Homo sapiens: one gene and its partners. The protein of the gene in region 1 purifies or fractionates together with the protein of each later gene. This does not show direct contact. Each region holds a gene or a part of one and is shown on either strand. Other genes may lie near its edges.

Region 1 (3,500 bases):
GAGAGAAACAAATACTGTTGGGTGATACCATTTTTGAACTCAAATTATTCCCCAAAATAATTCTGCAAAAACAACGCCTGACACACTACAGAAGATAAACAAATATGTGATAGACAGTATGAACAAAAGAATAACAGAAATAATACAACAGAATCAGATCCATAGTAGCTCCATAAATTAGAAGATACCAGGTATCACACAAATTTTAAAGTAAGTAGAGCCGGGCACTGTGGCTCGTGATTGTAATCCCGGCACTTTGGGAGGCCAAAGCGGGTGGATCACTTGAGGTCAGGAGTTTGAGACCAGCCTGGCCAACATGGTGAAACCCTGTCTCTACTGAAAATACAAAAATTAGCCAGGAGTGGTGGTGCGTGCCTGTAATCCTAGTTACTCAGGAGGCTGAGGCAGGAGGATCACTTGAACCCGGGAGGTGGAGGTTGCAGTGAGTGCAACCCAGAGCATGCCACTGCACTCCAGCCTGGGAAACAGAGTGAGATTCTGTCTCAAAACAAACAAACAAACAAAAAAGTTTACCTTTTATTATTCCATTGAGATAGAGGAGAAGAAAATGAGCAAATTAAACTAGTGTTTATGGATACATGCTTAAACAGTAAATCTATAAAGAAACAAAAATGATTACCATAAAAGTCGTGATGCTAGACACTTTTGTTAGGGAGGAAGGATGGCTTCTGGGATGCTGATAATGTTCTAGTTCTTGAACTAGGTTGTGGTATCTGGGTATTTGCTTCATAATAATTCCTGGATGTATGTGAATATGTATGTATGTTTTTTGTATACTTTTCTTTATGGATGCTACATATCACAATAAAGGTTTAAAAACATTTAAGTAGACTTAAGCAAAATAAAATGCTTAAAATATGTGAAATATGTATCCAAAACCCTTAAACTACAATCTCACCTCTGAAAAATGCTTAACATTAACAAACAGTAATTTAGCTAGCCTTGAAACACATCATGGTTTCTGACATAGAAAAAGGGGAAGCTGTGATACTATACTGTGATTCTATACTACGAATCCTGAGCTATTTAGTTCCTACAGCAGAAAAACAAACTGACCCTAGTAGGTAGAGAAACAAACCTATGAGATTAGTTTGAGTACAAAATACAAAGATATGCTAATGGTTCAGAGAGGCAGCATTCTCCTTCCATCTCTCTCCCCAGCCAGCATCAAATCTATGACATTTTTCACGCTGATATGTCTTGAGGGCAGATAAAAATCTCTCTCTCTCTCTCTCTCTCTCACACACACACACACACACACACACACACCATGAAAAAACAAGACGCCATCCTGTGAGGAGAGGACTGAAGACACAAGTAATACTTCATTTTCTGATGCAACACTGTATACCCGTCACTCACAGTTAACCATAAAAAATGGACACTTACTTGATCAAGATTTGAAAGGCTGTTAGGGTCCTGACTCAGACCTTGGTACTGTCCCCTGAGTCTGTCACCAGCAGCTATTTTCCTAAACTTCTTCAGATCCACAACATATAGTGCACTGAATAAAGAAGACCCGCTTGTTACAACCAACCATGGATTACGACAGGAAAACTAAACCCAATGAATAATGGAACAGGCCACTAGCCAAATATTCTGGCTTTTCTTTGAAAAGGTATGCTACAGCCCTACAGTGGAGTTAAAGTGTGCTACTTTAAAGATCTCTAAGAAAGTCACTGCAAAATCTATACTGTGCTATGCTTTTGTTACTGTTCTGTATTTGCCATCCGAAAGAAATAATCTCAGACCAAAGATTTCTAGCATATGCGGCAGTAACAAAAGCCATAGTAACTGATAAACAACCATTATTCAATGATATCCTGATGATGTCTTCAATGTTACAGGGGGGGGAAAACCCCAGAGTGTTACAGTCCTTACAGTTCTTTTGGACCAGGAATGTAAAGAATGAAGCCACCATCACTAAACCCCAGCAGTGATCTCTGCATGTGCCGCTTCCTACACGTTCCTCTTCCCTGCACATCTTCAAATCACACTTCTCGCAGAGAAGAGAATGGGGTGCTCATTAGAAATGTAACAACACACACACTGTTCGACCTAAAAGGTCTACGTCTAGGAATTTATCTCACAAATATATGAGATATGAAAAATTATTTAGTAGATTATTCATTGCAACATTGTAGGTCACAGGGAAAACTATAAATAACACTCACACACTGGAATAATATGCAGCTATGAAAAGGAATCAGGTCTCTCTCTATTCACTGAGAAGATGTATATGACATTAAGTAAAAAAAAAAAAAAAAAAGCCAAGTTACAAAATGTATAAATAGGTAGCATATTTTGTGTAAAAAAAAAAAGAATACACATTCACAGCTGTTTCTGTAAGAATTAAGAAAATCTGGAAGGATAGACAGTCAATAAGTTGGGAGGTTATCTGCTGTGAGAACAGGAACTGAGTAGGAAAGAGAGAGACAGGATTAGGAAGTTTTTTTTACACTGTATTTTTTTTTTTTTTTGAGATGGAATCTCACTCTGTCATCCAGGCTGGAGTGCAGCGGCGTGATCTCAGCTCACTGCAACCTCCGCCTCCTGGGTTCAAGCAATTCTCCTGCCTTAGCCTCCCGAGTAGCTGGGATTACAGGCGCCCACCACCATGCCCAGCTAATTTTTGTATTTTTAGTAGAGACGGGGTTTCGCCATGTTGGCCAGGCTGGTCTTGAAATCCTGACCTCAGGTGATCCACCTGCCTTGGCATCCCAAAGTGCTGGGATTAAGGCATGAGCCACTGCACCCAGCCACTGTGTATTTTTTATCATTTTTATTTTTCAACCATACCAATGTATTACCTATTCACAATTTTAACCACACAAAATCAATTTTAAGGAAAACCCCGTAACAGTGTTAGGAGTGCTTCTTTTCAGTACCTGATATGATACTTTCGCCCGGCTAAATGACTGGCCCAGTACCCTGACTTCCAGAACCTGTAGCCGTCCATTTCTCTTCGGCTGTCACAGAAAGGAGTGTAACCATAAGGAGCACCATCCAAATTGAAATCTCTTAACTCTTTCAGATCTGTTCGTACAATCTGGAGAATATAAAAAGTCATTTGTTAAGCAACCATGCAGACAGCTCTAATGCGGTTTCCTTCAGATACAGAGTGGCTCGCTTAAGGCAGCATGGAAGGCTGCTCCGTGGTTAGTGGCACAGGCACTAGGGGCAGATGCACTTTGATTGCTCCACTTATTACCTGGTTGACTCACTAACATGTAAGACACTTCTTAGCAAGGTGTGTGGGAGTAGGAATAAAACAAATTTCAACTGCTTAGCCTTTCTGTGCCTCAGTTTCTTCATCTGTAAAATGGAGATAATGATAATGACAGTACCTATCTCACAGGGTTGCTGGGAGGATTATGTAAGTTAACATATGGATGGACAGATGTAGAATAATGCCTTGCCCATCGTAAGTACTCAACAAGGATTAAATGTGGCTATGTTACAATCAGGAAGGCACACTT
Region 2 (3,500 bases), on another chromosome or scaffold:
AGAGCGCACAATACATACGCACACATAAACAGATACAGGCAAACCCTCTATACAGTATGACCACACATATATGTATGTATTTACATAGTGTAAGAAATAAATATTAGAACTTAGGCCATATTCAAACATCACTCAGATCAGTAGTATCTGATATGTATCTTTTATATTAGGAAAAGCAAAATATTGTTTGAAAAGCATGGCATAATCTTCACATAACATATTTTTGGACCCTTGGAAAGTCACACTACTATTCCAACTACTTACCAGTTCTTCAGAGGTCAAATGCATCAAACGTTCAGCTATTGCAGCACACTGGGCTGAATCTCTTATAAGTTCCCCTTGTTTATCTCCAATTACTAGCTCTGGCCAGGTCAGTCCTTCATTCTTCTTAATCAAGGAAATCTCCAAGCTAGAAGTTTAAATGGGAAAAGTAATGTTACATTAAGCAATTATACAAATTATACAATCAGTAGCAAACATTGTTTGTTTCTATCTTCTATAGAAAGAACCCTCCGGTGTCCAGAGGATGGTTTACCAAAAATCTTGCTCATTTAAGTTTTGCATGTGATGGAAAACCTATAATCCAATGGCAAATAGTCCAGATTTAATAAAGAAAGAAAGTACCACTGGAAATGGTACATCAAATGGCCTGAAGAGAGGATTGCCTGGAAAGAGTCAAGTCATCCAGAAAGTACTGGTATGCAGTATGTTCCTGAACTTAATAGAAATACAAGAAGCATGGATCTATAAGACATCTGGGGAATGGTCGGGGGTGTGGGCATGTAAGCAAAGAGTAAAAGGGCTGTAATTAAAGGATAATTCTTTGTGTCTGGAATCAACAATTAACTTTATTTTCACAAACTAAGAGCCATAATATATGATTATTAACCTGAAGATCAAGCAGGTTAAATCAACGCAAATCTTAATTTTAAAATACAGATGTTAAATAACTGAAAAGTAGAAATAAGGAAAAAAATTAACTTTGGTAATACAGGGAAAAAAGATGTTAATGTGTTCTCTATTAACTTATTTAAAATCTAATTCTGTACATGTAAACAACTAAACAATTCCAGATGCACTTAAAATGGTCTGTCAGGGAACCCTGAGATCAAGGACTGATGCAGCAGGAAAGGGAAAGAGAGCAGAGTCAAGGCAGACTACGGACATAGGAGAAGAAGTAACTTGTCCCATGTTCCTCTGGAATAGGAAGGAAAACCCAAGTAAGATGCTTTGGGAGCACCCACTGCTATAACAGAAAAGGGGAGTGGTAATAGCTATTCCACAACAAAGCAACCTTTTCCATGTGCCATCTTTCGTACACATGTACCATATTAGCTCATGCCCTGGAACACAACTGCAAGAATACAATAATAACTATTATAGTTATCAAATAGGACACGCAAACTTACCAGCTGTTCTTTTTCAAGACTGTTACAATCACTACCTTATGAATTACAGCATTTAACATTTTTCTGAAACTACCTATTTTAAGAGACTATACAAAATAATAATATGAGTACTTATAATTAGCACTGAAAATTACTCCCACAATAAAAGCCCAGATTTAGTTACATCTTTTCTTTTTTTGAGACAGAGTCTCACTCTCTTGCCCAGGCTGCAGTGCAATGGCACAATCTCTCTTACTGCAACCTCCAACTCCCGGGTTCAAGTGACTCTCGTGCCTCAGCCTCCCAAGTAAGTAGCTGGGATTACAGGCCACGCCATCATGCCCACCTGGCTAATATTTGTATTTTTAGTAGAGACAGGGTTTTGTCATGTTGGCCAGGCTGATCTTAAACTCCTGGCCTCAAGTGATCTGCCTGCCTTGGTCTCCCAAAGTGCTAGGATTATAGGTGTGAGCCACCGTGCCCAGCCCCCAGACTGAGTTACATTTTCTAAGGATAAAGGTAATCTTGATAATAATGATGATGATAATAATAGTAATAATGACCATAGCTTATACTTACCTATATGTCAGGTGCTGTCTTAAGCACTTTACATGTTTTAACTCATTGGTTACAACAACCAAATAAAGTACTGTAAATATTATTATCATCACCATTTTACAAGTAAGAAAAAAAAGTACTGAGGTTAAGCAACTTGCCAAGGTCACAAGCTATTTAAACAGTCTGGCTCTAAGTCCATGTTCTTCACTACTGCACTATTCTGCCTCTCTGAAAAAATATATGTAAATAACTATTAAAGAACACTTACCCAGTGAACTGTTCTTAGTTGCTACCTAAAGAGGTCTGAAAGAGTTGATACAATCTGTTATAATTTCCAAACCATCATTAATTTGCACAGTTAATCAGTGCACCCTTCTTCTAAGACTGCATTTGTACGTTTTAAAACTAGTATTGTATGCTACCATCCAAGCAAAAAAAAAACCCCAAACAATGCCAAATATAATAAACTACAGATTAGTTAAAAAAATCTTTCCAAAGTGAGACAACAGTAACTTTTGAAAACGAGAGGTACGAATAATTTACTCAAGTACAGAAAATCGTGTTTTTAAAACAACAATACCACCTACGCTACATTGTAGTTATCTTTTTTAACACAAAATAATAATCAAACACCTCAAATTTAATGGAAAAATAATACTGATCTATGTTGATGCATTGAATGCTGAAACTACTTACATGAAGTCAAGCTATTCCCCCAGACCTTTGCTGGGTTACTGCTTGATGACTTACATTTAACAATATGTTCTAGTTGGCTTGCCAATTTGTAAATGTGACTCACATACACATAAACATAATTAAATGGAGTATGTGGAGATACAAAATACTTTTAAAAGAAACTTTCAAGCAATTATTTTTGATATATTAAAAAGTGTAACAAAATCACCAAATGTCTTCATTAATAAAATGTAAGATACCTTTTACAACTTCAAACTTTCTATGAGCTAGATATATTTTTCTTGGATGCTCATGATTTAGACTTGTATCAGACTCACATGGATCATATACTACTAATTAAGAACTATACTTTGTGTAAAAACATCTAAGTTATCCTCTATGTAACATCAACTTAAAGCACAAGATTTAGGTTGTATTTTAAATCAACCATTTCTCATTTCTGACCAAATTTGACTATTTAAAAAATTAACTGCCTAACTCTATTCATTAATCCATCACTGAATTTAATAATTACTAAGACTTGATTTAAAATAAAAGAAAGTAATTTTAGTAATCCAAATAATTGGGGAAAAAACTGCCTGGAATAATAGATTTGCAAAATGGCACAGTTGTGGGGGGCAAAGGATTATAATTTTAAAAGACACTTAACTTTATCTTTTTTTAAAAAGACACAGTTTTGCTCCTTTAATTGAGGTGTAATTTATAAATAAAATTCACAGGTTTTAAGTGTAGAATTTACTGATTTTGACAAATGCATACACCTTTGTAACCCAATGAGGATACTGAATTATTTCCACCATACAGGCAGTTCCCTTGGCCTTTCTTCAGTCAATCTCCCTACACCCTAGAGATAACAAG
Region 3 (3,500 bases), on another chromosome or scaffold:
AATGACCTCTGGAGGGAACCCTCTATCTTATCCCTGGAGTCCAAAGCAATCCCCCACAGCCCCTCAAAAATTATGAGCTTGCAGCTCTGCACCTTACAGTAATAAAGAGGGAAGGATGAGTAAGACCTCTGTGTGGCACTCCCCCCCCACTATCTCCTCTGCAAGTCACCAAGGATCAAATAGGAGACTTTGACTTCTGCCATGCTGAAACTCTGGGGCCTCGATATGAACTGACAGATGCTGACAAGTCACAGGGCTGCAGAAGGTGCTGGGACTAGGGATGGGGACACAGATTCACTCACCAGACAGGGTCAAGGGCTTGTACTGATAAGATCTCAGTATTATTACCCTCAGCAAATTCAGACAGGACAAAGTAACACACTGAACTCATTACTAGGGAGGCCAGTGCCCCTGAGGCCTGGTCCCAGAGCTCTTTCCTGCCCACCAGCCTGGGCTGTGGGCCCCCAAAGACAATAGACCAGCTGGTGACCGTTAGCAGCTGATACAGTGCCCTGCCTGCAATCCCTAACCCTCAATTTCTGGGATAACTAGGGGCTCCTCTGCTATGAGTTCCATTTGCAGGAAGCAGCAACAAACCCAACGCCTTTTTCATTTCACCCTGTTCTTCAGGGGCAGGCTCCCAGTCCCTCTTCCTGCCTGCCTCTCTCCCCCTTGGGGCCGTCAATGGGACTTTCTCATCCTTGGGCCTAGCTCGGAACAAACACCCCCGACCCACACTCTCAGGACCAGGTGAACACCCAAGCTACACCAGTGCCAACTGGCCCATGGGGGCTGGACTCACACCCAGAATCCTCCTCCACGAAGAAGTCAGTCTGCAGCCAGCCCTTCCTGGTGGTTCCCGACCCTGGGCAGTGTCAAATCACCTGCCTCTCAGGCACTTACACGAAGAAGCAGTGGGCGGCAGTGAGCACCCACTGGGCGTCAATGAGCGTGCCTCCACAGATGTGGGTGGTGCCGAAGTGCAGACTCACTTGCCAAGGCCACTTGCTATCCGAGGCCAGCGCCCCTCCCACGATCCGCCCGGTCATGGCCCTCAGTCCGCAGTCTGGAGGGAAGGAGTAGACGTACTGTGAACCCTGTTTCTCCCAGGGTTCTTTCCGAGCTCCTGATCAGGATGCCTCTGCTGTGCTCCCAGGGCCAGGACAGGCTCAGGCAGCCCCATCCTGAAGGGCACCCACCCTTCCATGGACGGGCTTTGCTCCCTTATCTGCTACACACAGCAGTTTCTGTGAGAGCAGAGCCACCACATGGTGGGGTGGCTTTCTGGGATCATTCCGCGGAAAGTTTGACCCCAGGCAGGTTCCTCTTTCTTCTCCTTCACTCATTCTTTCATTGACTTGACAAATCCTTTTGGAGTGTCCCAAGCTTTGGGCACTGTGTTGGGCATTGGGGTCATGATGGTAAGTCCCAGGACTGCCATTAGGTGCACAGGAATGCAGACCAGTTCTAATGTGACCCTGAATTGACAAGCATTATAATGAGGGTCTCTATTGTTTCTAAACATAGGAAGAATACACTTCCCCTGATGCACAGAAGACTCAGACAGCTTCCTTGGAATAAAAGGTTGCTGGGCTGAGCCCCTACCAGAGTCAGGAGAAGGGGAAATGTTACCCTGGGTGTACCGGTGCCTTACAGGGACTCCAGCCCTGAAGCAGGCCTGCTGGCTAAGACACTGTTCCTGACTTGAACCCCTGTGCCAAACACCTCCCTTGGAGGAGTGCTGCCCCTCTGCCCTTTACTCCCACACGACACTGGCCACAATCCAAGAAGAAGAACATCTTACGGGAACACTGGAGAGAGATATACCGCTGGGAAGGGCATTCAGACCTGCAGGGGGAGACACAGAAAGTGGGAAAAGGGCACATTAGCTACCTCCTCCAGGAAGCCTTCCTGATTGACTCCTGCTCAGTTCCTATCCTGTTTCCAAGGAAGCTACCCTTTGTACAGGAAGCAGGAGATTCTGAGCTTCCCCTTTCCCCATGTGACATTGTCCCTTCCAGTGCTTTGTCCAGAATCGGAGTGGCTCAGTGCAAACCATCTCCACTCTCATCCCCTCAACTAGTTTCCTTGTGGCACATTGCAGACATTGGCCCAGATCCATGTTCTTCGAACTTAGGACTTCATTGTCGCAGCATCTTTTCACAACTAAACAGGTGGTCTGGTGCTCCTCTGACACAGTTCCTCAACGCAGATGCAGAAACCACGCAGCACAGAGCTGGCATCCAGCTGCAGCAAATTCACATCCCTTCCCTCACCATTACTTCTCTTGGAGCCTGGCTTCTTCTCTCCCCTCCGTAGGGCAAACAATGCTAGCTGGCAGAGACCCCAAACCTCTGATGCTTCCAACGTGGCCCTCCCTGTCCCTGATGCCTGCACCTGGCGGTCCCCTACTGCTGCCTGTCTACCCTGTCCCCTAACTGCACTGGTGGAGAGAGCAGAGAATGGGCCGAGTAGAGGAGCGGCATGTGCAAAGTGTCATGCCAGGGTGTCAGTGGTGCTTCTCCCCCACCAATCCAGGTCCACTCCCTGCAGCAGCTCTCAGTCCAAACACCTGGCCGACTGGTGGTCCCAAGGTTCATGAATTGCCTCTGACGACCTGATAAACTCTCAGGGGCACCCCTGGTCTCCAGTTGTCCTCAGCACCGAGCCTCAGATAAGAATTCTTAAGTCAGAAGGCAGTTTGGTGAATAAGGACTATTTCCAAGATGCCCCTGAACACTCATGGTGGACTCCTGGAGGCTGGATACTAGAAAAGCCAGTGAAGGGGGCTCCCTGACTCAAAGACCCTCTCCTACCCACTCCTTCCCCTGCTCACAAACAGGCAGCCTGCCTGCCCCACCATACCTGTGGAGGCTTTCCTGGATGGTGGAGTTGTATCTCAAGATTGAGAAGCTGTTGGCAAAATCCCTGTGGGCAACCTCGGTTGTCCGGTGAGCACTACAAGGGAGCAGAGGGGAGAAGAATGAGCCCCCTGGAGACAGAGTCATCCCAAGTCCTCCAGCAGGCTAGAGCCCCACCAGCCCTGCCGACAGAGGCCAGACTGTGATGGTCTGAATGGTGGCCAACTCCTCCAAGCAGCAGCTAAGCCCCAATAAAGTGCAGCCCCACCCACATGCTCCACCACTGCCCCTTATCTCCCCCAACTCCCCTCCAAGATCCCCAGCCCTATGCACTACCCAGCATTTCTCATGGTGGAGACTGGTAGCATTAGCATTGCCTGGGAAGTTATTAATATTAGCAATGCTTCTGAATCAGAAGCTCTGGGTGTGGGCCCAGCGATCACCATTTTAACAGGTTCTCTAGTGATGCTGATGCACACTCAAGTTTGAGAAACACCAATCTTGCCCTTTTCTACCCAAACTGTCATCTGTGAATAAGCAGCAGCAGCAACCCCCCCAGACCTACTGAATAAGAATCTGCATTTTAAAGAATCCCAGGTTACTGATCTGTACATTAAAGCGTGAGAAGCTCTGGGCAAG
Region 4 (3,500 bases), on another chromosome or scaffold:
CAAACAAGGTAAATGTAAATTAATAAACTTTTGGAAACTAGAAATATCAGCACTATTGTAGGTTAAAATTTTAGTTTTATCTGAGTGGAACAGACCTTGCTGGAAATAGTAACTATAGCACTCTTGAAGAGAAATATGTCCAGACTTCCCCTCGGACCAGATTTTTCTCTCATGATTAGCTCTATTTTTCCAACAAGAAGGAATAAAGTGGAGTTATACTTTATCTGCACATGTGCTCCTCATAATAAAGTACAGAAATAACCAAAATGGACTATCCTATTTGTCTCATAAGATACTTACTCATTTTCATATAGACTTAAATAATTTCTGTTTTCTGGCTGGGTGTGGAAACTCACACCTATAAATCCTACTACTTTGGGAGGCCGAGGTGGGAGGATTGCTTGAGGCCAGGTGTTCAAGACCAGCCTGGGCAACAGAGCAGGAACCTATCTCTAGAAAAATTTTAAAAATTAGCCAGGCGTGTTAGCCAGTGCATGTAGTCCCAGCTCCTTGGGAGGCTGAGGCAGGAGAATCGCTTGAGCCCATGGTTTTGAGGCTGCAGTGAGCTGTGATTGTGCCACTGCACTCCAGCCTGGTTGACAGAGTGAGACCCTGTCTTAAAAAAAAAAAATTGTGTTTTCTCATAATTGGAAATGTGTTTGCATTAGTGTACCCTTAAGTCAGAGGTGTACATACCAATTTTGCCCAAATCAAAAATAAATGAGGCATAAATGAAGGAACACTAATGAATTGTTGGTGACGTCCACTGTTTGCTGTTGTTAAAATGGTGTGATTTTGTTATTTACAATCTCATTCTTTCCTTAATTAATGTCCTTTCGTAGTTCTCAGAGTAAAATAGTATTTTCTGAGTGTAGTCAAATGTGTTATCCAGAAATGACATTTGGAAGATTCCCAGGAGTTCTTGCATATTGCCTGTTTTGTATTTGTCTCATTGAAACATATTTTTGAAAGGAGCATATTTTGCTTGTGATGACTTACATTTTCATTTGCCTGTCTCAGCTTCCAAATTTATTTTGGCTTTGTTCCCTAGATTACCGAATTATACAAACAATATGATTTTGGAAAAGTTGTTCGGCTGTTACGGACGTTTTATACCAGAGAGCTCTCTAACTTTTATTTCAGTATAATCAAAGATAGGTATGTATGACTAAATATTAAAATGCTTAACAATGGCCAGGTGTGGTGACTCACGCCTGTAATCCCAGCACTTTGGGAGGCCGAGGCGGGTGGATGACATGAGGCCAGGAGTTCGAGACCAGTATGGCAAAATACAAAAATTAGCCGGGCATGGTGGCACATGCCTGTAATCCGAGTCACTCAGGAGACTGAGGCACGAGAATCGCTTGAACTTGGGAGGCGGAGGTTGCAATGAGCAGAGATTGTGCTGCTGCACTCCAGCCTGGGTGACAGAGCAAGATCTCGTCTCAAAAAATAACAACAACAAAACCTCAACAAGTATTTTTTGAGTGTCTACTTGTGTTTGGCAACCGTCAGGGATACAGTGATGAGCAAGATGGGCAGTGTTGTGCAGTTATTAAGATTGGGTTCCGGGCCAGGCGTGGTGCCTCACGCCTGTAATCCCAGCACTTTGGGAGGCCGAGGCGGGCGGATCACGAGGTCAGGAGATCGAGACCATCCTGGCTAACACAGTGAAACCCCGTCTCTACTAAAAATACAAAAAATTAGCTGGGCGTGGTGGCGGGTGCCTGTAGTTCCAGCTACTTGGGAGGCTGAGGCAGGAGAATGGCGTGAACCCGGGAGGCAGAGCTTGCAGTGAGCCGAGATCGTGACACTGCACTTCAGCCTGGGCGACAGAGCAAGACTCCGTCTCAAAAAAAAAAAAAAAAAAAGATTGGGTTCCGGAGTCAAGTCTGAGTATAAAGGTTTGACCTCCCGCTTACTAGCTTTCTGATTTGGGGCAACTTATTCTGTAATCTGTTTCTTCATCTGTAAAATGGGTATAATAATACTTACCTCGTGATTGAGAAGGAAAAGCAATAATGTGCTTAAAGCTGTGCTTGATAAAGTGTTCAAAAAATCATCACTACTAATATCAGACGATGAACATAATGCTTGTTCTCAGGAGTTCTCAAATCCTGAGGGGAAGAGAGAGATATATATGTGCAATTATATGGTAACAGTGTATAATATTAGCAGTATCCTTGTAGAAGAGGCCTTGATGCCAAGTCTTCATCTGTTGCTCCAGTGTGCAGGTGACGGTCCTACCTTCATGGTAATGAGTCCAGTCTGAGGCGTTATCCTCAGCCTGTCAGCACCCCAAGGACCTTGCACATAGGGATTATAACTCCTACTCCTTCCCTTAAAACACTAATAACATTGGAGTGGGTGGGAGCCACATGTTAAATACCATCAACTAACTTATTCATAGTCCTTTAATACAGTAGTCTAGACTCTAGTTGTCATCCACCTGAGAAACAGAATGAGATAGCGTAGCCATGAGTGCTTTCAAGGAGGTGGGTACACCTGGACGGAGTAAAATTGTAGGAGAGTGTATTGTATTCTTTAAGTAGAAGATGATTAGAGCCATAGGATTAGCCACTAGGAATAAACTCAACCTGAGGCAGGTCCCATCTAGGTGACCATAATGTATAAAGTATTGTCAACTGCTGAATAAGTTGTTCTTGTTCAGGCTCTATTGTGAAAAGGAAAATGACCCCAAACGACGCTCTTGTCAGACTGCATTAGTTGAAATTTTGGATGTAATAGTTCGTTCTTTTGCTCCCATTCTTCCTCACCTGGCTGAAGAGGTGTTCCAGCACATACCTTATATTAAAGGTAAGGAATACTTCATTTATTCTCTTAATGAGAAATATCCCTGATCAAGGTGCAACTTCTACTTCTATCTGCTTCATAAAAGGGGCACTTATCCATTTACAGTGACTGCTGTGTGACACAGTGTGTCTTGGTCATGTATTTGTTTCTGCACCTATTTGTAGAGGAGTAGGGTAAATTTCAGAATTCTGTGCTTTCTGAAATGTATTAGCAGCTTGACAGTGTCGAGAAATCACCTTTTTTCTTAAATACCTTTATAACTGTTCTGAAATGGCTGGCATGGTGGCTCACACCTGTAATCCCAGCACTTTGGGAGGCCGAGGTGGGCAGATCACTTGAGGTCAGGAGTTCAAAATTAGCCAGGCCAACATGGCGAAACCCCATCTCTACTAAAAATATAAAAATTAGTGGGGCATGGTGGTGGCGGGTGCCTGTAGTCCCAGCTACTTGGGAGGCTAAGGCAGGAGAATTGCTTGAACTCGGGAGGTGGAAGTTGCAGTGAGCCAAGATCATGCCACTGTACTTCAGCCTGGGTGACAGAGCAAGACTGTCAAAAAAAATGTTCTGAAATATATTTTAGGTTGTATTAAAACAAAATATAGTGCTTTTAGTGAGTTTTATGTTAGTTGTTTTCTTCTGATTGTATTAAGTTTATAAAAATTAGAAACTATAGAAGTGTAGGAAGA
Region 5 (3,500 bases), on another chromosome or scaffold:
CGCTGGCCCCTCACCTTGGATTTCCCCTTTCCCCGACGCTTGGGAGTATCTTCTTCATAGTCTTCATCATCGAGGTCATCCAGGAAGTCATCTGGTTCTAGGATCCGCTGAGTGGACAGGAGGGTTAGCATGGGTAGAAATATGTGCATCCAAAAGCTCCCCTATGATGAGACTGGCCAAGGCCACCCAGAACCTCCTCTGTGACGTGGTCCCACCCACACCAGCCTCATTCCTCACCAACGCCTTTCAAGCATGCTATAATCCTGCTCCTGCTCCCTTCCATACTTTGGGATATCTTTCCCCTGTGCTTCACGTTATTTCCTTAGCCTGAAATGCTTTCCCCACCATGCCACATGGCCAAATCAAATAGCATGCTTCCAAAAGGTTGCCCTGATGCCACAAGCAGCCATGCCCTCTCCTGCCTCTGATTGGCCACCCTGGGAGCACATTATTGGTGGTTCTGTCCTGACACTCGCCTCCTAGTTTAAATTAAAATGTTGTTGCTTATTTGTGTGACCTTGTGGGAAGCTTTTTTTTTTTTTTTTTTTTTTTGAGACAGAGTTTCGCTCTTGTTGCCCAGGCTGGAGTGCAATGGCGCAATACTGGCTTACCGCAACCTCCGTCTCCTGGGTTCAAGCGATCCTCCTGCCTCAGCCTCCCAAGTAGGTGGAATTACAGGCATGCGCCACCACACCTGATTAATTTTGGATTTTTAGTAGAGACGGGGTTTCTTCATCTTGGTCAGGCTGGTCTCGAACTCCCGACCTCAGGTGATCCAACTGCCTCGGCCTCCCAAAGTGCTGGGATTACAGGCGTCAGCCACCGTGGCCGGCCATGGGAAGTTTTTTTTTTTTTTTTGAGATGGAGTCTCGTTCTGTCACCTAGGCTGGAGTGCAGTGGCGCAATCTCGGCTCACTGCAAGCTCTGCCTCCCGGGTTTGCGCCTGAGTAGCTGGGACTGCAGGTGCCCACCACCACGCCTGGCTAATTTTTTTTGTATTTTTAGTAGAGACGGGGTTTCACCATGTTAGCCAGGATGGTCTCGATCTCCTGACCTCAAGATCCGCCTGCCTCGGCCTCCCAAAGTGCTGGGATTACAGGCGTGAGCTACCGTGCCCGACCCATGGGAAGTTTTTAAACTGCTTTGTTTCAGCCTCTGTGTGAAATGGGGAACACAGGACCTACCCCATAAGGTTGTACAGACTAAAGGAGAAAGGGCATGAAAAGGCACTTAACCCAATGCTGGCATATTTATAGCTGTTATTTTTACATGTATTCTTATCTTCTCTGTTGGCAGAGACTAAGTGTGCTTCACTGTGTAACCTCAGGGACCAAAAAACTGTGACACAAACTTTTGTGATAAAAGAGTAAAGCACTTAGGGATAAAAGTTTGTTTCCCTCCCTTCCCAGACAGGGTCTCCCTCTGTTACCCAGGCTGGAGTGCAGAGGCATAAGCAGAGCTACAGCTTCAATCTCCTGGGCTCAAGCAATCCTCCCACCTCAGCCTCCTGAGTAGCTGGGACTGCAGGCGTGTGCCACCATGCCCAGCTAATTTTTTATTTTTATTTTTAGTAGAGACAAGGTCCTGCTATGTTGCCTAGACTGAAAAGTTTTTGAAGTTTCCTCTCAAATAGTTTAGCAAAGACAGATAAGGCAAATGTGGCAAAATGTGGAATTGATAAATCTAGGTAAAGAGTATGTGGTATTTCATTGTACTATTCTTGCACCTTCTGGTTTTAATTTTTTTTTTTTGTTGCCCAGGCTGGAGTGCAGTGGCATGATCATGACTCATTGCAGTCTCGAACTCATAGGCTCAAGTGATTCTCCCACCTCAGCTTCCCTAGTAGCTGGGACAACAGGCGCATGCTGCTATGCCTGGCTATTTTTTTTTAATTATTATTTTTTTGTAGAGATGGGGTCTCACTTTGTTGCCCAGGCTGGTCTCGAACTCCTGGACTTGAGCAATCCTCCTGCCTTGGCCTCCCAAAGTGCTGGGATTACAGGCATGAGCCACTGCATCTGGCCTATTTTAATTTTTTTAATGAAAATTATATATGTGTATAATAATAACCTTCTGTGATAAAAGTGAATGAATGAGAGTCTATAGTTAGAAGCAACAGAGAAGCCAGTCAGTACCTGACAATAATCAGGGACTGAAGTAAGAACAGAACTGCAGGGGCCTGCTTCCTGGACTCCAGCTTCTGTTTCAGTTCTAGAAACTAGGTGGCCCCCAGTGAAGAGGAGGCTGATTTCCATCAAAGCTCCCTTAGCCACAGGGATAATCCTGTACCTTTCGCGCTCGACTGTTGGTCACAGGAAACTCGCCCAGGCTGTCATCATCAACTCGGGGATCCGGGGCACCTCGCTTCTCCAGGGGGTCAGTGCGCAACAGAGCCTCTAAACTACTGCCATCCTGAGAGATCAGCCCCTCCTTCTTCAGGGTCTGGTCTGTGTCTGCAAGCAAGGTCAGGATAAAGCAAGGCTCAAAAGGGCTGAAAGCAGACTGCTCTGAGTCCACATAATGCTGGGGCTTACCAAAGGTCTGTCACTATCTTTTGTTCTCTGCACGCCCAGGAATTAAGACACCCTAGTTCACTTGGCACCATAACTTATCTGTTTACCTGTCTCCCCTTCTAGACTGAGGTCCTTAAAGGAAAGAATCACATCATATTCATTTGAGTATATTTGGGATCTAGTACTGGGCCTGGTATATCACAGTGATTAGCAGGCTCTCACCATGCAGCAGGCCACGCCTCTGCTCAGGAAGTATGTGCCTTACCTGGCTTAATAGATGGGAAGGAAAGTCGTGGATCCTCAGGGGGATGGGCTCGCCGCTTTTTCCGCCAGCGCCGGGCAGGGTAGGAGTACAGCTGTCCGGAGGCCAATCCTGTGGCAGGAAGAAAGATAGAAGTCAGGCCCTAACCCAGTATTAGAAAGTAATACCAAACACTTTCTAATTAAGTAGGCCCCCCTTTGAGTTCTAGAGCAAGGGAGAAATTCTGACAGTGAGGGCCTAGGGGGTTAGGTGGAATAGTCTGTGGAAAAGAAAAATAGATATATAAGCTTCAGGGCCTTGGCTAACACATAGTTCTCCAGACACACAATGGCCTCAGCAGGGCAGAAAACAAAGATGCTGGTATCAAACATCTGCTTCATCCTCCCTGGGTTTCTAATCACAGGAAGACCATATTCATCCATAGGTGGAAGGCAGTAGGGAAAACCCTATCAACTGTCTCATCACCTAAGATGAGGAGGCTTCTTCCTCCTTATGCTCCTGAGTCCCCTTCTCCCAAGTCTGGACCCTCACCTGGACCCCGGTGTCGCTTTTCCATCCAGATGTAACAATTGCTCTGGGCTACTCCGGTCTGTGAGTCCAAGAAAGGCAGGCGCACGCTGCGCTCAGCACAGAGGCGAGCATTGTAATTGTGGCACTGCTCCATGGCATCTTTGTAGTACTGCTCCCCAAGGCTGCAGGGAAGATAGAAATCAGGCGTGTATGTT
Region 6 (3,500 bases), on another chromosome or scaffold:
TTTTGAGCTTGGTTTCAGTGTCTCTTTTATACTTGAACAGTGTCCTTAAATTAGATTCCATGATCAGTGTGAGTGCCTATGAAAAATGACTTGTAGGGCTCGTCCCTATAATCCCAGCTACTCAGTAGGCTGAGGTGGGAGGATCAGTTGAGACCTCCAGGAGTTTGAGACCAGCCTGAGCAACATAGTGAGATGCCATCTCTTAAAAAAAAGAGAAATGAAAAGTGACTTGTTAGGTAACAAATCTACAGGACTCTTATGAAAAGACCCAAACGAATTTTTCCAAAACCATTTTGTTTCAATGACCATCCATTTAAACTGCCAGTTAATTGAAGGATAATTTGCTATAACATACCTGCTGGACTCATAACTTATAGACAGTAAAGTGATGGTGATACTATCCTTTGTCATAGGCTGGTGTGCATTGTAGCCTCTCATGGTCACCACATGTACTGATTGTTCTTGGTTATTTATTTTTTGGGGACAGGTAGGCAGTGTTTTAAGATGTTGAATTGCAAGTATATTTTACCTCTCATACCTAAATCCATATAATAAAGGAGAAGAGAGAATGCATTTAGAGGATATTGGGTTTAGGTAAAATAGTGCTGCATTTCATAAGGTAGCTGTATTTCTGAAATACCTGGTCTGAAATAGGTCAGGTCCTCTTCATTCTGAGATAGATAGGAAGCAACACTAGATTTCAAATGATAAATATTGGATTACCTCCCCAGTTTGACTGTTATGTTGGTGTGTCATCGGTGGGGGAATGTCACTTACCTCTTTTTATTTTCATCATTTCTTTTTGTTCAGGTGAGCTATTATAGGGTATTTAATATGTATTGGGGTATTCAAACTAGTCATAGCGTAACTACAACAGTTAAGTTCTCTGCATTATTTTTAGTCTCCAAGTCCTCTTGTCTGCTGTTGATGATTTGCTAAATACACTTCTAGAGAGTGAAGATTCTTATCTTATGGGAGTTTATATTGGAAGTGTAATGCCGAACGACAGTGAATGGGAAAAGATGAGGCAGTCTCTTCCTATGCAGGTATTTTGGAAATTGAAGAGTACATATCTCATTCTGAAGTTTGGATTTCATGCAAGCTTGAATATTTTTATTTTGGGGAAGAAAAACATAAATAAAATGAGTATTTTGCTTTGCTTTGATGTCTTTGTATGCTCATATACTGGATGTTTGCTTTTTGCAAGACACCATTTGACAGTGGCAGTGGGCATGGTACAAAGACTTAGGACCTAGTTCTGTACTTAAGGAGTCTTAAAGAAATACACATGTTGATAATTTCCTGTAAAAGAAAACAAACTTCTAGGTTTCTGTGGTTTTGGTAATAAATATTCTCACAACTTCATTTTTGTTCAGTCTCAATTGCTTAGGTAATAAATAATTTTGTATATAACGTATTCTTTTCACAGTGGTTACATAGACCTCTTTTAGAGGGAAGATTGAGTTTGAATTATGAATGTTTCAAAACAGATTTTAAGGAACAGGACATAAAGACACTTCCCAGCCATTTGTGTACTTCAGCATTATTGAGCAAAATGGTCTTAATTGCACTGAGAAAGGAAACAGTCTTAGAAAATAATGAGCTTGAGAAAATAAGTAAGTATATATGAGTATTTACATATAACATAATGCATGAATGAATATAATTTTGAAATAATCTTGATTATACTGCAGTTTAAATCTTTAATTCAAGAATCTTCAGCTTTCTTTTTCCTATTTTAATGATGAGAACCTTGAAGTTACTTAAGTGGTGAATGTGAAATTGCAAATTAGATACGAATATATTGGAATCTTGCTATAATCTTGTTAACTGTGGATCGTAATTTGGTGTTAGCTACTCAGGCTGTCATGACATCAATGTAAACAGATCCTGTGGCACATACCCTAAAGAAAATGGGTGAGGCTTTGGTGTTTTATCAAGGATTCAGAATTTTCTGTTGATTAAAAAAAAATTGATACCTGATAATTTTACATATTTATGGGGTACATGTGATATTTTGATATATACATAGAATGTGTAGTGATCAAATCAGGCTAAGCAGGATATCCATCACCTCAAACATTTATCATTTCTTTGTGTTGAGAACATTTCAAATCTTCTAGTTATTTTGCAATATAAATCATTGTTAACTATGGTCATCCTACTGTGTTATTGAATACTAGGTCATATATCTTCTCTCTCACTGTATTTTGGTACCCATTCACCGACCTCTCTTCATCCCCTGCTCTCCCTGACCCTTCTCAGGGTAACCATCAGTCTACTATACTATTCTATCTTCATGAGATCCACTTTTTTAGCTCCCATATACAAATTAGAACATGTGATGTTTGTCTTTCCGTGCATGGTTTATTTCATTTAGCATGATGATGTCCAGTTTCATCCATGTTGCTGCAAATGACAGTATTTCATTCCTTTTTTTTTTTTTTTTTTTTTTGAGACAGAGTCTCGCTCTGTTGCCCAGGCTTGAGTGCAGTGGCGCAATCTCGGCTCACCACAACCTCTGCTTCCCAGGTTCAAGTGATTCTCCTGCCTCAACCTCCCAAGTAGATGGGACTACAGGCGCACACCACCATGCCCAGCTAATTTTTGTATTTTTGGTAGAGACGGGGTTTCACTATGTTGGCCAGGCTGGTCTTGAACTCCTGACCTCGTGATCCGCCCGTCTCAGCCTCCCAAAGTGCTGGGATTATAGAAGTGAGCTACCGTGCCTGGCCTCATTCTTTTTTTAATGGCTGAATAGTATTCCATTGTGCATATGTACCACATTTTATATATCCATTCATTCACTGATGGACACTTAGGTTGATTTCATATCTCAGCTATTGTGAATAGTGCTGCAGCAAATATAGGGGTGCAGATATACCTTTGATATACTGGTTTTCTAAATATTCAATGGGATTGCTGGATTGTGTGATAGTTCTATTTTTAGTTTTTTGAAATACTTCCATATCGTTTTCCAAAATGGCTGTACTAATTTGCATTCCTACCAATAGTATATAAGTTCCTATTTCTCTGCATTCTTGCCAGCATTTGTTATTTTTTGTCTTTGTTTTTTTAGAGATGGGGTGTTACTATGTTGCCCAGACAGGTCTTTATCCTGGGCTCAAGCAATCCTCTTGCCTCAGCCTCCCAAAGTGCTGCGATTACAAGCAGTGCCACCATTCCCAGCTTATTTCTTACCTTTTTGACAAGAGGCATTCTAACTGGGGTTTTGATTTGCATTTCCCTGATGATTACTAATATTGAGCATGGGATTTTTTTTTCCTTTCTTGCCGTTGAGTTGTTTGAGTTCCTTATATATTCCTTATGTTAGCCCCTTGTTGGATGAATAGTTTGCAAATATTTTCTCCCATTCTACAGATTGTCTCTTCACTTTGTTGATTGTTTCTTTTGCTGTGCAGAAAGCTTTTAGTTTAACATAGTCCTATTTGCCTGTTTTTGTTGCCTTCGCTTTTGAAGTCTTAGCCATAAAAATATTT
Region 7 (4,026 bases), on another chromosome or scaffold:
CACACCTGTAATCCCAGCACTTTGGGAGGCCGAGGTGGGTGGATCACCTGAGGTCAGGAGTTTGAGACCAGCTTGGCCAACATGGCGAAACCCCATCTCTATTAAAAATACAAAAAATTAGCTGGGCGTGGTAGCAGGCGCCTGTAATCCCAGCTACTCGGGAGGCTGAGGCAGGAGAATTTCTTGAACCTGGGAGATGGAGGTTGCAGTAAGCCAAGATCACATCACTGCACTCCAGCCTGGGCAACAGAACGAGACTCTGTCAAAAAAAAAAAAAAATCTTGCTAAAATATAGCTCCCCAAAGTGTTAATAGTGATGCTGGGGCTATTTTAACTTTCTTCTTTATAAGTGCCTTATGTAATATAATGAGTAACTAAATAATTTATAAAAGGTGAATATTAATTCTATAACCAGAAGTATACAATAGATCTATATCCAATTATAAAATAAAATGTTTTAACACATCAGAAGCAAATTGGTTTGACATGTATGCAAACAATAGGAAAACAGCATGACCATTATAAATAAATGCCTGCCAGTTCTTGAACATTCTTCTTCAATTCAACAAGACCTTTTCACTGTTAAGATTCTTCTCTTAATACACAAGCCAGGTGAACAGTGTCTGCAGACTGAATAAGAAAATTTGAACAAAGCAGACAGAAGAGTGTTTGGTTCTCCTCTACTTCTCCAGCAAATAATCAGTTGAAATGTTAATTTAGATATAATGCTTGTTAAATGTCTTTAAATCCTAATATTAGTGAGATTCATATAAAATTTAAAATTTGCGGCTGGGTGCGGTGGTTCATGCCTGTAATCCCAGCACTTTGGGAGGCCAAGGCAAGTGAATCACCTGAGGTCAGGAGTTCCAGACCAGCGTGGCCAACGTGGTGAAACCCTGTCTCGACTAAAAATACAAAAATTAGCCAGGCATGGTGGCAGGCGCCTGTAATCCCAGCTACCTGGGAGGCTGAGGCAGGAGAATCACTTGAACCCAGGAGGCAGAGGCTGCAGTAAGCCGAGTTCATGCCATTGCACTCCAGCCTGGGTGACACAGCGAGACTCCTTCTCAAAAAAAGAAAAAAAAATTGCGTATTATTCTTCATCACTATGACTATTACTTTACTCATATGTACTTTTTATTCTTATGACTAACTCTGTATAAAAATAAATCTCAACTCATGGATTCCTTGGAAAAAAATCCCTGCTCATGTTCACACAGATTTCTATGCTTGGACTTCCAATCACATTCCCACTTCTAAAAGCCTTAAAAGCAGGCGACCATTATCACTTGCTTACTGACACTAGTCAGGTCATCTCTAATCCTGTCATATTTTAAAACTGAGGTCTTTGGAGAAGATTGGAGAAGATGGATGATGTGATTCTACCTAAACATTAATCTCAATAAAACAAAGTTTTAACTTTAGACTCCAGGATATGCATTTCTCTACCATTATAGAAAGTGAGTGCAGAGGAATGATTTGAAAAATGAGAAAGTCATTTGGAGGCCCGTGAAGAGGAGGGTCCACCTGCATGGTCCATTGTTCACTGGAAAGGAAGGCCTGGGATAGGTCACTGGACAATTCAGGAAAAGCAAAGCAATGTTTCCATTTCCTAAAAACAAAAACATTTTATGCATTTATTTAAAGATTTACTTAAAGATATAGACCAGAGAGTTGCAATTTATGTGACAAATAATTTAGTCTTTTTAGATTGAATCAAATGAACTTCTTCAAAGGGAAAAATGCAAATGAAAGCTACAGAAAGTACCTGGGGATGTGATTTTTGTGACTGTGAGCAATGAGGTGACAGGCTCTGTGGTAGATTGTGGCTGTGCTTGACATAGCAGTGTGGTACCACGCCGTATGACTGGGTGCAGGCAAGGCTGTGTGAGGATTAGAATGTGTGATTTCCATTTTATGAATAAAAAGGAAATATAAACTTACCTGGACCTGAACTTTTAGACCTGCTACAACAATTGTTCCCTCCTTTTCAGGATCCCTGTTTTGATGAATAGCAGAATGGGGGAAGAAAAATAATCATGAGACAGCAGGCCTTTCTTAAGAGCACAGACCGACCTAGAATATCCCCTCCAGCGCCACATCTGTGCTGACCTCACGCACATAACAGCTGTGTGAGAGTGAGGCTGGGATCTGTCTCTGAACTCACACCAGGTTTCTAGATCAAAGGTATGGGAATGCAGTGGTTCTGAAACATGCAGCTGCCCACACAGCGGCTCCAACTGCGCAGTCTTCCAACCTGTCGTCCCAGGAGTCTGTTTTAGGGACACTTCTAATTCAAAAGTCCAATCGCCAACCCAGGTCTGTACCTTCTTGCTGGGAACCTTCATCCCAGAGCTCGATATTTGACTTCCCTCTTGGGGACACTGCTGTGTGCAAACACCGAGGCCGTGAGGAGGGTAGAGGGTCAGTGACACACACCAGAGAGCCAGGCACCTGTCTCAGCCTCACACCCGCACCCACACCCGCCCAACCCGGTCCTGACAGGCGCCCCGTCGCGCGCACACACACACATACACCGTCTGCCACATTTTGTCACACAATTTCCCTTCTCCGCTCCCCAAGCACGCACAGGCCTGAGGCTCCCTGCGGGCACGACACGCCAGGTCTGGGCCCTGGAGCGCCTCACTTTGGGCGGCAGTTCTATCCCCAGTCCTACTCGTAAGAGTCCCGTTCCGCCTCACCTAGCTCGGACTTCTCGCCCGCAAGTGAATAATAACGGTTAAGGTGACTGAACCGTTAAGAACGCAATGTAAAGGGCCCTTGGGGTCCAGGCAACACTGCCCAAGGGGCTTCTGGGAAATGTAGTCCACAGCCGGAAACTGATCCTTTTGGGCGGAGGCGCAGGCGCGCGCGCATCCGGCGGGTTCGACTCACTTACCAGGAACCCACGCAGGAAGCTGAGGAGGAGAACAGACGCCTCTGGGCCACTGGCCGGGCCACTTGAGCGTGGGACCGCCGAGTGTGACCCTGAGGCCGAGTGCGTGCGGGACTGGGCGATAGCTCCGCCAGGCAGGATTTTGTTTGTTTCACCTCTTGAGGTAGTCCCGGCGTGTAGTACATAATAGGCGCTTAATATGTGTATTGTAAAGAATGAGTGCCTGGCCATTTGTATTTGCCTTGTGAGCGCGTGTGTGTGGCACTGTGAGGGTTGCGGGACCGACGGAACCTCTCTGGCTCTGGCGGGTTGTGTTTCCGCGTGTGTGTAATTTGAGTGTGAGTCAGTGTGTAGTGAGTGAAGGGATCTGACTGGAGAAAACCACAGTAAATACCCGGGGCTGTGATTTTTGTGACTTTGGTCAATGGGACGACAGGCTCTGTGGTAGACTGGCTGTGCTTGACGTAACAATGTGGTACTATGCCGTGTGGTTGCCGGCAAGGCTATGTGAAGATGAGAATGTGTGATTTGGAAAATCTGGATGTGGAACATCACGGGTGCCAGTGGAATTGTGACTCTGTGTGTGTATAAAAGTTTGCAACCATAGGCCTATATGTCTGTGGGATAAAGAGAATATGTTGCGTCTTCTTGGAGTATCAGCTTTATTTAAACATTTGCATCAGAGAGTTGCGATTTATGTGCCAAAGATTTTTGTCTTTTTATATTGAATTAAATGAATTTTTTACAAAGAGAAAAATGAAAATAATAGTAACTTTCAAAAAATATTAAGAATTTCCTTCCACTCTTATATTCTGGCAATGGATCTTTGGCAATGGGTCTTTGGCAGATCAATTTGAAAAGCTTGGACTGAGGAAATTATACTTGGAAAGCACATTAGGCAGTCAGCCCTTGGTTCCTAAATACCATGCTCCACTGAAAGGAGCAAGGCTCCATGGAGAAATGGCAGATTCCAGAGCTGGGGAAGGGAAAGTTCAGAATGAACTTGGAACATCTTGTGCTTGAAAGTAAGGCAGTGCTCAAAGAATGGTGGGGACGTGTTCAAAGGACATGGAAACCAGATTGAAGGGACTTCCACTGACCAAACTTGACATGGTTTGAGCATCAAAATA

What was found.
Region 2: the proteins of UGGT1 (region 1) and NUDCD1 purify together in Homo sapiens (co-immunoprecipitation; one large-scale study listed by IntAct). This does not show direct contact.
Region 3: the proteins of UGGT1 (region 1) and TMPRSS13 purify together in Homo sapiens (co-immunoprecipitation; one large-scale study listed by IntAct). This does not show direct contact.
Region 4: the proteins of UGGT1 (region 1) and IARS2 purify together in Homo sapiens (affinity purification with mass spectrometry; one large-scale study listed by BioGRID and IntAct). This does not show direct contact.
Region 5: the proteins of UGGT1 (region 1) and DPF2 purify together in Homo sapiens (affinity purification with mass spectrometry; one large-scale study listed by BioGRID and IntAct). This does not show direct contact.
Region 6: the proteins of UGGT1 (region 1) and LTN1 purify together in Homo sapiens (affinity purification with mass spectrometry; one large-scale study listed by BioGRID and IntAct). This does not show direct contact.
Region 7: the proteins of UGGT1 (region 1) and ZNF546 purify together in Homo sapiens (co-immunoprecipitation; one large-scale study listed by IntAct). This does not show direct contact.

Annotation. Positions count from the first base shown.
Region 1 is NC_000002.12:128,181,700-128,185,199, reverse strand, and holds part of UGGT1 (UDP-glucose:glycoprotein glucosyltransferase 1 precursor), read right to left. Parts: intron 3,071-3,500; coding exon 2,910-3,070; intron 1,526-2,909; coding exon 1,411-1,525; intron 1-1,410. UniProt on the Homo sapiens protein: Recognizes glycoproteins with minor folding defects. Reglucosylates single N-glycans near the misfolded part of the protein, thus providing quality control for protein folding in the endoplasmic reticulum.
Region 2 is NC_000008.11:109,275,088-109,278,587, forward strand, and holds part of NUDCD1 (nudC domain-containing protein 1), read right to left. Parts: intron 410-3,500; coding exon 265-409; intron 1-264.
Region 3 is NC_000011.10:117,908,903-117,912,402, forward strand, and holds part of TMPRSS13 (transmembrane protease serine 13), read right to left. Parts: intron 2,959-3,500; coding exon 2,866-2,958; intron 1,849-2,865; coding exon 1,805-1,848; intron 1,067-1,804; coding exon 904-1,066; intron 1-903. UniProt on the Homo sapiens protein: Serine protease. Cleaves the proform of PRSS8/prostasin to form the active protein. Cleaves the proform of HGF to form the active protein which promotes MAPK signaling.
Region 4 is NC_000001.11:220,139,132-220,142,631, forward strand, and holds part of IARS2 (isoleucine--tRNA ligase, mitochondrial precursor), read left to right. Parts: coding exon 1-8; intron 9-1,051; coding exon 1,052-1,158; intron 1,159-2,671; coding exon 2,672-2,817; intron 2,818-3,500.
Region 5 is NC_000011.10:65,340,352-65,343,851, reverse strand, and holds part of DPF2 (zinc finger protein ubi-d4), read right to left. Parts: intron 3,468-3,500; coding exon 3,307-3,467; intron 2,887-3,306; coding exon 2,779-2,886; intron 2,454-2,778; coding exon 2,290-2,453; intron 108-2,289; coding exon 15-107; intron 1-14. UniProt on the Homo sapiens protein: Plays an active role in transcriptional regulation by binding modified histones H3 and H4. Is a negative regulator of myeloid differentiation of hematopoietic progenitor cells. Might also have a role in the development and maturation of lymphoid cells.
Region 6 is NC_000021.9:28,954,878-28,958,377, reverse strand, and holds part of LTN1 (E3 ubiquitin-protein ligase listerin), read left to right. Parts: intron 1-901; coding exon 902-1,046; intron 1,047-1,429; coding exon 1,430-1,616; intron 1,617-3,500.
Region 7 is NC_000019.10:39,995,834-39,999,859, reverse strand, and holds the start of ZNF546 (zinc finger protein 546), read right to left. Parts: upstream 2,801-4,026; 5' UTR 2,703-2,800; intron 2,000-2,702; 5' UTR 1,945-1,999; intron 1,613-1,944; 5' UTR 1,534-1,612; coding exon 1,450-1,533; intron 1-1,449. UniProt on the Homo sapiens protein: May be involved in transcriptional regulation.